2 separate regions of the Homo sapiens genome follow, and region 1 is linked to region 2. The links come from fine-mapping of genetic effects on gene expression. A gene starts in region 2. The other region holds a variant in brackets. All regions are shown on one strand. Distances are from middle to middle. Region 1 has its middle 6.5 kb from the start of AMY2B. Region 2 holds the start of RNPC3 (RNA binding region (RNP1, RRM) containing 3).

Region 1 (5,390 bases), 39 kb after region 2:
TCTCTAACCTTTACATTGCAACTTATCCTGAGTTCAGGTTTATTTTCTTTCTTATTTTATTTTCAAAAGAAAAACAGAAAACTGTTGGGGGAAGGGCTGGTGGTTGAAGGTTTACTATTTTGAGAAAATTGTACCTAATTTATTGCAAAACTCAGAGGAATTAAGACTTTATTTTTTAGTAAGAGAAACAACTAACTTGATCAAGTTCATAAATGTGACATTAAGGTATTTCAGTTGTAATTTTTAATCACACTTAAATTACTTCCAAAGATATTTATAAGGCATCTAGGCTAAGAACTACGAATGACATTAATAGATAACTTGTCTTTTTTTTTTTTTTTTTTGTCAATGTTAATTCATTTGCATGTTAAAAAACTATAATATCTGGTATAAATGTGAGGCTACTTTGGATAGGGGGAAAGAACTTGTAAATAACTGATAGTTATATAAGTAGAAAGGGAGCTCTAGAAAGACAAGTTATTTGGAAGTTGCTACTTTCTGCTTAACAATAGAGCTCTTTCATTTTATTTAAGTCAAGGCTTTGGTGTGATTTAAGTAGGCTTTGAGCTAAATGATTAAATTTATGGTACTTGATGTGTCAAGAGGGATACTGAGTTTACACTAGAGCCGTTTCCCTATAATGCCATTTATATTATGGATGTCAAAATAGATACCTCATATATGATATTGATTGAAAAAATACTTTTGAGACCCTCAGAAACTGGCTAATTTTGAGTTAATTCTTGATACCGGATATATTTTATTTTTTATATGAGCCCAAATGAGAAGAGAGAATATGTTTTGACACTCCAAATATAAATCTTTAGTGACTATTGCTTTGTCGTCAGGATATTATCAAATGTCCTATTTCATATTCTTAGGGAATTCCCAAGATATGTCATTTGGCACATGATAGTAACCGTTAGAGCTTTAGAGTAAAGGGAAGTTTTCTCTTTGTAGAGCATTCTAGGAAGTACAAAATATGGGCAATAATGCCGTATATTACTAATAACTGAATAGCTTCTCTAAGGATAACTCTTTTAGAATAACTATTTCAGAAAGTAGATATAACAACTATTTTAAATCCTTATTTTTGTGTTTTTGATGCCGAAGATGCTAAGAATTGTTTGTGCAGATTTTTATTTCAGAAGACATAAATATACTTTAATTGTTTTAATGCTTCTCCTATGGGGTATATAGCTCTTCAGATTGCTTGTTTGAGGTGAAAATTAAGATCAAATGAGAAAATATATGATAATGCCTGACTCTTAGTAGAAGCTTATTATATGTGTGTCTAACTCTACCTTTCATGCAGTGCTAAATTCCCTAAATTATATCTGCAAATTATCCCTTTTTTTTTACCAACATTCCAAATGCATTGTGAAAAATGCTGATTTGCTATTACAAGAACAGAGTTCATTGATCTGGCATTGTTGAAAAGTATATTTCAAAACTACCATGGATCTGCCAGAAATCCTAAGCGAATAAGCAAGAAGAATACTGTGAGGGAAGGAAGGAAAAAATTGCAGGTAGAAAATATTGGTGATTCTTTTTCATCTCTGTCCATTCCTTTACTGGAAATGAAAATACTTCTGAGAAGTAGAAAGTATTAGAAGTTAAGAAGGGTAGAATGGGAAGACAGAATGGCCAAGTGTTAGTAGAGCGAAGGCGGAAAGACAGTATGAGTTGATAGGATTTTTAATAGGACCAGGTAAAAATATCAATACAAAAATAACATTATCAACCATATTGAGCTTTTACCATATCCATACATTGGGATAACAGCTTTATTTGCATTATTCGTTTAATCACAATAACTCTATGAGGTAAACATTACTTTTTCTAGTTAATAGATACATTTAGAGAAGTTATTTTCCAGCATCACACAGGTTATAAATGGAAAAGTCAGGATTTATAGTTTGTCTTAACTCCTAATAATTGCGTTTTCACATTTGGAACCTTGAGTCAAGCATGAAGTTCAAATGGTGCCCCTCTTCTCTGTCAACTCTTTACACCATCAGCCCTGTATCACTATCTAGTCAGTCTTCTATTTAAATTCTGATACTCACCCGTATCCAGTTAGTTTGTTGTACTCCCTGCAAATTTTCCTTCCCTATTTGCTTTTAAAAATCATCTCGGGTAATAAAACTCCCTTTGCTACTTTGAAGGCACCTCTTTATTATCTCCTTCCTACTCCCTGTACCCCATCATTTATAAAGCTTGGTGACTTCATCCAATATCTTTTTTGGTATTTTGTCAGCCCTCAAGGGTACAACTCTCCAGGCCTGATAATTCAGCCAGTGTACACTGCCCTCTGTATAGTAGTTGCTTAGGGATAGCATCTGTTCTGTTCAGTGTCTGTGTTAAATCAGTTAAGTATTTTTTGTTCCATTTCTTAGACTGTCATTGCTTTGTTGAAAACTACCAATTCTCTGCTTCTTTCTTCATATCTTTTTTTAATTGTTTTTATATACCCATTTGTTTTAAAAATGGTACCTCTAATTCAATATGTCCCCATATTCATCGGTTTCTCTAAACCAAATCTGCCTTTAGATTGCACTATCAGTCATAAAGACATTGCCATTCTAATATTCACCCAAAGTTTAAATCACAGAGTCCCCATTTGACTCTTTATATTCTCTATTCTCTTATATCTGATTAACCACCATTTTCTGTACAGTCTCCACCAAGTCTGTTATATCTCCCCTCTCTGTTTTACATAAACATTTCCCCTCTATTCCAGGGGTATATGTTCCAAGACCCCCAGCAGGTGCCTGAAACCACAGATAGTACCAAGCCTTTTGCAGTCATCTCTCCAGTATCTGTGGGGGATTGGTTCCAGGACCTCCCATGGATACCAAAATCTACAGATGCTCAAGTGCCTTATATAAAATAGCATAGTATTTGCATATAACCAATGCACATCCTCCTGTATACTTTAAATCATCTCTATATTGCTAGAGATGTAATATCTACTGTAATATAAATGCTATGCAGATAGTTACATTGTTTAGGGAATAATGACAGAAAAGTCTATATGTTCAGTACAGATGCAACTATCCTTCTTTAAAAATATGTTCTTCCACAGTTGGTTGAATCTGGCGATGTGGAACCCATGGATATGGAGGGCTGACTATATACACCATGTTTTTTCCTGGCACATCACTCAACTACTATTAGCTGGCGAGTCAACTCACGTTGTTGGAATGACTAGGGACAACTAGACTTCAAGTGATCTTTCATCCCAGGTAGGCTCACAACACAATGTATGATCTCAGAGTTCCAAGAGATCAAACTCCCTTCTGCAAACC[CCAGT/C]CAAACTTTGCTTGTGTCTTGTTTGCTGATATCCCATCGGATAAAACAAATATCAAGCTAATTCCATAGTCTTTGTAGAGAGAGACTTTATATAGGTATGGATACTGGGAAGTGTCATTCATTGGATGCCCTTTAATATAACTATCACACTTCCCTAATTTTCATTCTTACTGCTGTAATCCTAATTCAGATTTCTGTCACTGCTCTGCTTACTAATGTTCCTATCTCTTTGTTTTCTGGTCCATCTGATATAATTAAAAGTTTTTATTATTACTTTCCTGTTTAAAACAACCAAAAAACCTTCTGAGGTAAGTACTTTTTTCTTCTCCCTGATTTTGAGTGTCCCCAATATACCTTTCCAAATTTAACTGTCATGTCTCCCTCACACTTGACTTGTTTCTAAAACACTGTATTGACTTCTTGCCATTTTCCTTGCTCTTCTACATGTTTTTCTTACTTAAAAGCAATTTTACCTATCTCTTTTCATTGATGTCAAACCCATTCTTCAAGTCAATTTTATCTCCCCTTATTCCCATCTGTCAGAAAGAACTTTTCCTACCAATTAAATCCTGAAGCACTTAATCGTAACCCTCTTAAAACTATGTTCATATCTTTCACTTTATTGTTTGTTTTTGTGTATGGACATATCCCTTCTCTAACTGAACATAACTTCTAGAACAGCTCTGTCTAATACAAATAGAATGTAAATCATATATGTAATTTAACGTATTTTACTAACTGCATTAAAAGAAACCAAAAGACACTAGGGAAATTAATATTAATGGTAAATTCTGTTTAGCCTAATGTATCACAGTATGTTATTTCAACCTGTAAACATCATAAAAATATATTTTTTTACTTTTTATTTTCACACTATCCGAGTGTGTTTTACACTTACTACTCATCTCTGTTGAAACCACATACATTTCAACTGGTTAGTAGCCAATTGTTTCTAGTGGCTACCATATTAGACATCACAACTCTAGAATTCTAGGAGAAACATTAGTGTAGTACAGAGAATGTTGACTTGCAATCAGACTTATTATCAAATCCTGTCTTTGTCACTTACCATATGAGCCTGGACAATTTACCCAGTCTGTCTGGGCCTTAGTTCCAACATGTGTACAACACTTTTGCTAGGATTAGAGTCAAGTTTATTGCACAATTTCTAATATAGAGTTCATTGATTTTTAGAAAATCAATGAGGACATAACCCATGTTATGCCAATGTTTTGCACAATACCTGGAACCTAGAGTTTTCATGTTATAGCCATTTATTGAGCACATAAGACAATGTCAATCATTTTACTAGGATTTGGAAATACTAGATATGAAGTCTAACTTCAAGAAGCTTGGTCCAGAATGACAGACAAGTAAATTGTTAATTATAATATACTTACAAAAGAAGTCAAATATAGCTTAATGTCATATAAATTAAGAAGCTTTCATACAACAGAGGAGCTAACTATGCTTGAGAATATGAGGGTAAGCTTCATAAAGTTGTGGTTTCAACTTAATGTGGAAGGAAAAGTAGTTGCTTCCACACTAAGTTGGATGTGGAAGGGGATGATATGGGAAACAAAACCACTAGGAAATTCATGAAGGTATGATATTTCATATAAAATATGAGGAACTTCTAGTTTTGCAATGAACAGAGTTCACAGGATTGGCTGGCGGAAGGACCAAAGGGCAGCATCAGGATCGACAGTGGAATAGTTAAGATCCACAGCTCTCCTGATACCCTTCGTCAAAGCTGGTACTTCCTCATTTTGTCTCATGTTAAAAAATGGTATCATCCCCAAATACCTATATCTTTAATATTTTTCCTCATCCTTCAGCTCTAATCTATTCATAAATCTACTGCCTGTTTACCTCTGAAATATACCTTGTCTATGCCCTAGTCCAAGCCACTCACCTCTTTCCTGGACCACTGTAAAAGTCTTCTAACATCTACCCCTTTCCACTCTTATCCTCCTATAATCTGGTTTCTTCCCAGAAGCAGGGTGATTTTCTTTTAAAGTTTATTAGTCTTTCAGTTCCCCATGTCACAGCCTTAACAGCTCTCTCTTTCTTCA
Region 2 (5,390 bases):
TTGAATAGATATTTACAGAATGTGCACTATGTCTGGAACATTTTACTAAACATAAGAGTCACAGGGAGGATGTGACGGTCATTTTGCATGACACCTGTCACCAACTGATCCCAACAGTTGATTTGGCTGATCTGGCTAACTAGCTGGGTTCCCCTTCCTTCCTAACTGCCCCATATATGTCTCTTCCAAAGCTGCCCACTCGGCTGAGGAGGATGACTTACCCCCATAAAGGAGGATGATTTTTCTGTAAGGGCATACGTGTAGCAGTGCTCCCTTGCTAGAAGCTCCAAACAAGTCTTCAAAGAACACACACAAAAAAGCCGCTGAAGGATAGTGTTTAAAATAGCATGACCACTCCAATCGGTTTATAACACTACCCTATTTTTTCCAAAGCACTTATTATTCTCTGAAAAGAACTTTATTTACATATTTATTCTGTCTTGATTTTAGAAAGTAAGCATTGAGAGGGCAGGAATTGATTGTCTTCTTCTTCTTCCTTGCCTCAACTTCTCAACATCTGCATGTCCCATGACTCCATTATGGGCACAATTCTATCTATACCCTTTGTCATTCTTCAGATATAAATACCATATAGGTTGATGCCATACCTCGTGGTAACCTTTCCCAAGAATGCCAAACACACACATTCAACTTCCTACTTGAAACAGGGATACTGAATAGATACCTTAAACTTAATATATGTTCCTCTATTCCCAATGTCCCACTACAGTTTCTAACCTAGCTATACTTGGTCAATCTTCTCACATTCAGTAAATGGCATCATCATCTACAGATGGATAATATCTAGCTTAAGCCAAAAATCCAGAATTTATCCTTGCTTACTATTCTTCATCTGCAAGTTCCTATCAACTACTTCTAAAACGTATCTCAATTCCAGTTCCTTCTCTACATGTCCACTTTCACCAAACTATTATGGTAGTGTTTTTCTCCAGACTTCTACAGTAGTCCAACTGGTCTTTCTGCTTCTGTTTTTTGCATTGCAACCGGAGAAATTTTCATACCTAAACTTTGATTCTCTCCCCTCAACACACACCTACTTAAAGAATTTGTCAGTTTCTAAATGTTCCTCAAATAAAAAGGGCTCCTAACAAATCTACAGCGTCTACGTGGTCTGGCTCTACCTATCTGATATTTTGGTGGGTGTGTGGGGAAGGTTCTTCTCATGTTTGTCTTCTAGTTTTCATTAATATCTGTCTCTCTCCTTTTCCCCAACCAATGCGGGATGACAGCAGATTGCTGGTATACTGCTTACTGCTGTATCTCTAACATTTATTTAAGTGGCAAAAAGAACTGTAAGAGGAACTCTGGTTCTCCAGACTGTAGCAGCTACATCTAGCATAAAACCTCTCTTTAGAATCCTCAAGGCCCTCTCTGTATGGGGTGAGGGGTACATTCCTGACCCTCCGGGGATGATCCCTGCCTCACTCCATTCAGAATCTAGGCAGAACAGTGGATTAGAATGTAGACCCCCAGTCAGAACACCAAGGGTCAAAACTTAGTTCTTCCACTTTCTAGCTGTGTGATTTAACCTCTTTGTACATCAGTGTCCTCAGCTGTAAAATAGGGAGAAAAGTACCTACACCTACACACACACACACATACACACACACACACACACACACCCCTACACACACACACATACACACACATGCAATAATTTATTTATTAGGTTACCTCTCCCTAGAGGCTGCCATTTCTGCGAAATGAACCCTGGCAGGGGCCTATCCGTCTGCTAAATGCCTACTGATTCAAGAAAAAAGTCTGAACTCTCAACGTTTTGCCCCTTAAACTGAGTTCTCCTCCCTACAATGGTGTCTAATGAGTTGACAGAATAACTGGCTAGCTTTATATTTTACCATCTAAATACTGTAAGAACATACCCGGTATTTCCACACCCAAGTTCTCCTCCTTGCTATTCAGGCCAATTCACTTTCCCAAGGCCAGGGATTAAGAGCCGCACGGTCAGCTCCAGATAGCGCTCGCCGCCGTGCGCCCCGCCCCGCCGTGCGCCCCGCCCCGCCGTGCGCCCCGCCCCGCCGTGCGCCCCGCCCCGCCGTGCGCCCCGCCCCGCCGTGCGCCCCGCCCCGCCGTGCGCCCCGCCCCGCCGTGCGCCCCGCCCCGCCGTGCGCCCCGCCCCGCCGTGCGCCCCGCCCCGCCCTGTGACGGTCCCAGCCCGCACATGCGCAGTCGTGAGTCCTCTTGTCCTTGAGCGTCAACCTTCTTTCCCTGAAGTGGCTGGGGTTCCTGTTTCCTTCTTTGATTGACAACTTGTGTTAACCCTCGCACATCTCTGGGCCAATTTTTGCTTGTAAGTCTTTCCGGAGACCCCTGGAATTTAAATCATTAGCACCGCGCCCTTCCCCGAAGAGTCTTCGAAGGGTTGCCGCTTTTCGGTGGCGCAGTTCTCGCGAGAAGGTGACTTTCTTTCTCGGTATTTCCTGGTTTCCAGAATCCTTAGCGCGAGGCGGAAAAAATATTTCTCCCAGCTTGTGTTGATGCCGCGATTTTGACTGAGACTTCTTCCCACGATTTCTGTTTTTGCTTCTCCAAGGAAAATGGCAGCTCCCGAGCAGCCGCTTGCGATATCAAGGGGATGCACGAGCTCCTCCTCGCTTTCCCCGCCTCGGGGCGACCGAACCCTTCTGGTCAGGCACCTGCCGGCTGAGCTTACTGCTGAGGAGAAAGAGGACTTGCTGAAGTACTTCGGGGCTCAGTCTGTGCGGGTCCTGTCAGATAAGGGGCGACTGGTAAGGGCGCGCCCCTCCGGAGTCTCCCGGGAAGGCATTTGGGAAGTGACCGGGGAGGGGGAGCGCTGACAAGAGTAAAATGGAAACGAGTGGGGAAGATGGACTTGTGTGATGAGAGCTCCCCCATCCTACCTCTTTTTTATCAAAATATCTGCTCTGCGAAGTGGAGTTTTAATCGGCTCGAGTCTGGATTAGTCATAGCACTGCAGAAAAGGGCAAGTGAGAACGACAAAGCAGAAGAATGGAAATTAGCTTAGTTATATTGAGTTTTCGGATCCATCCTGAGAGCCTCACAACTTTTTTGAATTTGGGGTTATTTCTCCTGGACTCAAGAGTATTCTTACAAATGTGCATCAAGGGATTTTTTAAAGTCCTACTTCATTTATAAGCCAATGTTAAATCGTTCATTAAAATAGAGGAGAAGCTACATTGGTGACTTGCGTAAATTAAATGCAGAATTTCAACTAGAAAAAGAGGCTTTTCATAAAAATTTCCCGATGACATCTTTTAGGGAACAATTTTTTAGGGCTGTTAAGAGTACCTGTGTAGGAATTTACACAATTACTTTGTTTTGCTTTATATCCAAAGATATTTTAGATTTCTCTTCATTAAAATAGGAATAGCGATGGTGCAAGACTCAGTGGTTTTAAAGTTTCCCTAGGTGATTTTAATGTTAATGTGCAGCCCAAGTTGAGAGTTACTGAATTAGAAGAAAGACCAATTTTGATCAGTTTAAATGTCACTTATGCCTGCAAATTAAAAAAAAAAAATTATATATGGCTCAATTTAAGTACATCAGGTCATCGTGTATCAGATTAGACAAAATTAGAATGTGCGATATAATTATTAAAGTAACTTTTAATAAGCATTGACCAGAGCTCTTCCTTAGCATAGTGATTCTTTTACTGTTGATTTGTGTTTCTTTTCTGATGGTTTTTAAAATCCGTATAATTTATGTTTAAAAATAGACTTCTCCCATTGAACATTATTACAAAGATAAAGCACAAAGGAAATATGCACCTTGAAGAACGATTTCTCTGTTGGTGAATGTTTTTAAACTACGCATTGTTATGTATAGAGGAAAGTTTAAAATCTTTAGATCTGTCATAAATGAAGGAAATAAATTTTTAGTTGGTTAAAAGTGACCCTCTGTGTAGAACAGGTCTTTAAACTTTTGGTCTTTTGAACTATTTGCATGTGTAAAACGTGTGTCTTTATATGATAGAGGTTGCATAGCTTTCATCTCAAGTCTGACTCAAAAAGTATTGAAAACCACTGGACTGAAATTAGTAATCAGTTAAATGGTCTTGAGTTTTCATCCTTTCCCGTGATTTTATTAACATGTCACATTACTCCACTGGTAAAAAGTCAGATTTCTTTGTGAGAAACTGAAATTATATTGGAAGTAATTTGTACCTTAACTCTGTTTCAGAAACATACAGCTTTTGCCACATTCCCTAATGAAAAAGCAGCTATAAAGGTATGACTTTTTCTTGACGATTAAAGTTGTCAACAGGATCCTCTTATACAATCTTGGTTCAGATAATGTTTAACTGTGGTTTTTAAGAAGCAAAAGCGTTTGTATTCCAACAGTTTCCCCAACAGACTACATTTGATTTGTCAGTTGGCAGATCTTGCCCAGTCCTTTAGTAGATTATCTATAAAGAAAAACTAACTGCGTATGTAATTAAAATAACAATTTCTAAATGATTTAGATTGATAAATATCTCTGTGACTGTTACAAGGTAAGATGTTTCAAGTGTTAAAAGGAGAATATACATTTCTTTATAATGCCAGGGAATCATTCACAGGAGGTGATCTTTTAGCTAGAAGTCTAATGATTAATTGGATTTTTTCAGAAGGAAACAAGTGGAGATGGGCCTTCTGGGCTTGCAGAACACCAAATAAAGCTGTGAGACATTGGAAGTTATAAGTGGAGCAGGAGCTAAGGGTTGAGATGGAAATGGAACTTGAAAAATAGATTTGAGTCTGGGAGAGAGGTATTGAGTTTGGTTTAGTAGGTGGACACTTGATACTTTTGAGCTGGCTCATAATATGATCAGGCCTGTTAAAGATATCTGGTATAGTTCATATCATGGATTGGATGTGCAGAATTATTAGAGGTAGGAGACCAAATGGAAGGCTGTTATAATGGCCAAGGCAAGAATAACTATCTGAAGAAGACAGTAAGAAGACAAAGGGGGAAGTAAATATATATTCAATAGAGATTGAGTTTGTAGGTTTTATAATATAGGGGTTGAGAGAGAATAGTTCAGGATATTTAGATTGAGGATTGAGTTATTTGGGTTGTTATATTAGCTGACATGAGGATCCAGAGGATGTTTGCAAAGGCATAGGATGAATTCACTTGTCATCTGTTAACTTGGAGGGGTCATTGGGCTACTTTTATGGAAATATTTAAAAATATTAATGAGAGCTGAGGCAAGGTGAAGAATGGAAAGATTCTTCAACCATGTGAATAGATATGTTTGCCCAAAGGATAATAAGCTAGGAGAGAAGAATGGGAAGGAGCAGTTAAAGTAGGAGAACTAGAAAGGAAATTATCACTGATGCAAAGAGAAGTGTGTTTTAAGAAGATGAAATCCTGTGATGATGCAAAAT

The links. PIP is the estimated chance that this variant, and not a neighbour inherited with it, causes the effect.
Region 1: its variant is the best candidate, but not a certain one, in a credible set for the expression of RNPC3 in whole blood (TOPMed, PIP 0.89).

Annotation. Positions count from the first base shown.
Region 1 is chr1:103,562,347-103,567,736 of GRCh38, forward strand. It overlaps a transcript of AMY2B not described here. Among named protein-coding and RNA genes, the nearest start is that of AMY2B, 6.5 kb to the right of the region's middle. The variant CCAGT/C (reference allele first, on the strand shown) is at 3,312.
Region 2 is chr1:103,523,495-103,528,884 of GRCh38, forward strand. It overlaps RNPC3 (RNA binding region (RNP1, RRM) containing 3), which reads left to right and starts at 2,205. Exons shown (of 15, transcript NM_017619.4): 1 at 2,205-2,768; 2 at 4,201-4,248. The coding sequence starts at 2,577. RNPC3-DT (RNPC3 divergent transcript) reads right to left here and starts at 2,014. Exons shown (of 4, transcript NR_168321.1): 1 at 1,902-2,014. It also overlaps the pseudogene RN7SKP285. RefSeq lists a silencer at 1,997-2,096 and an enhancer at 2,417-2,656.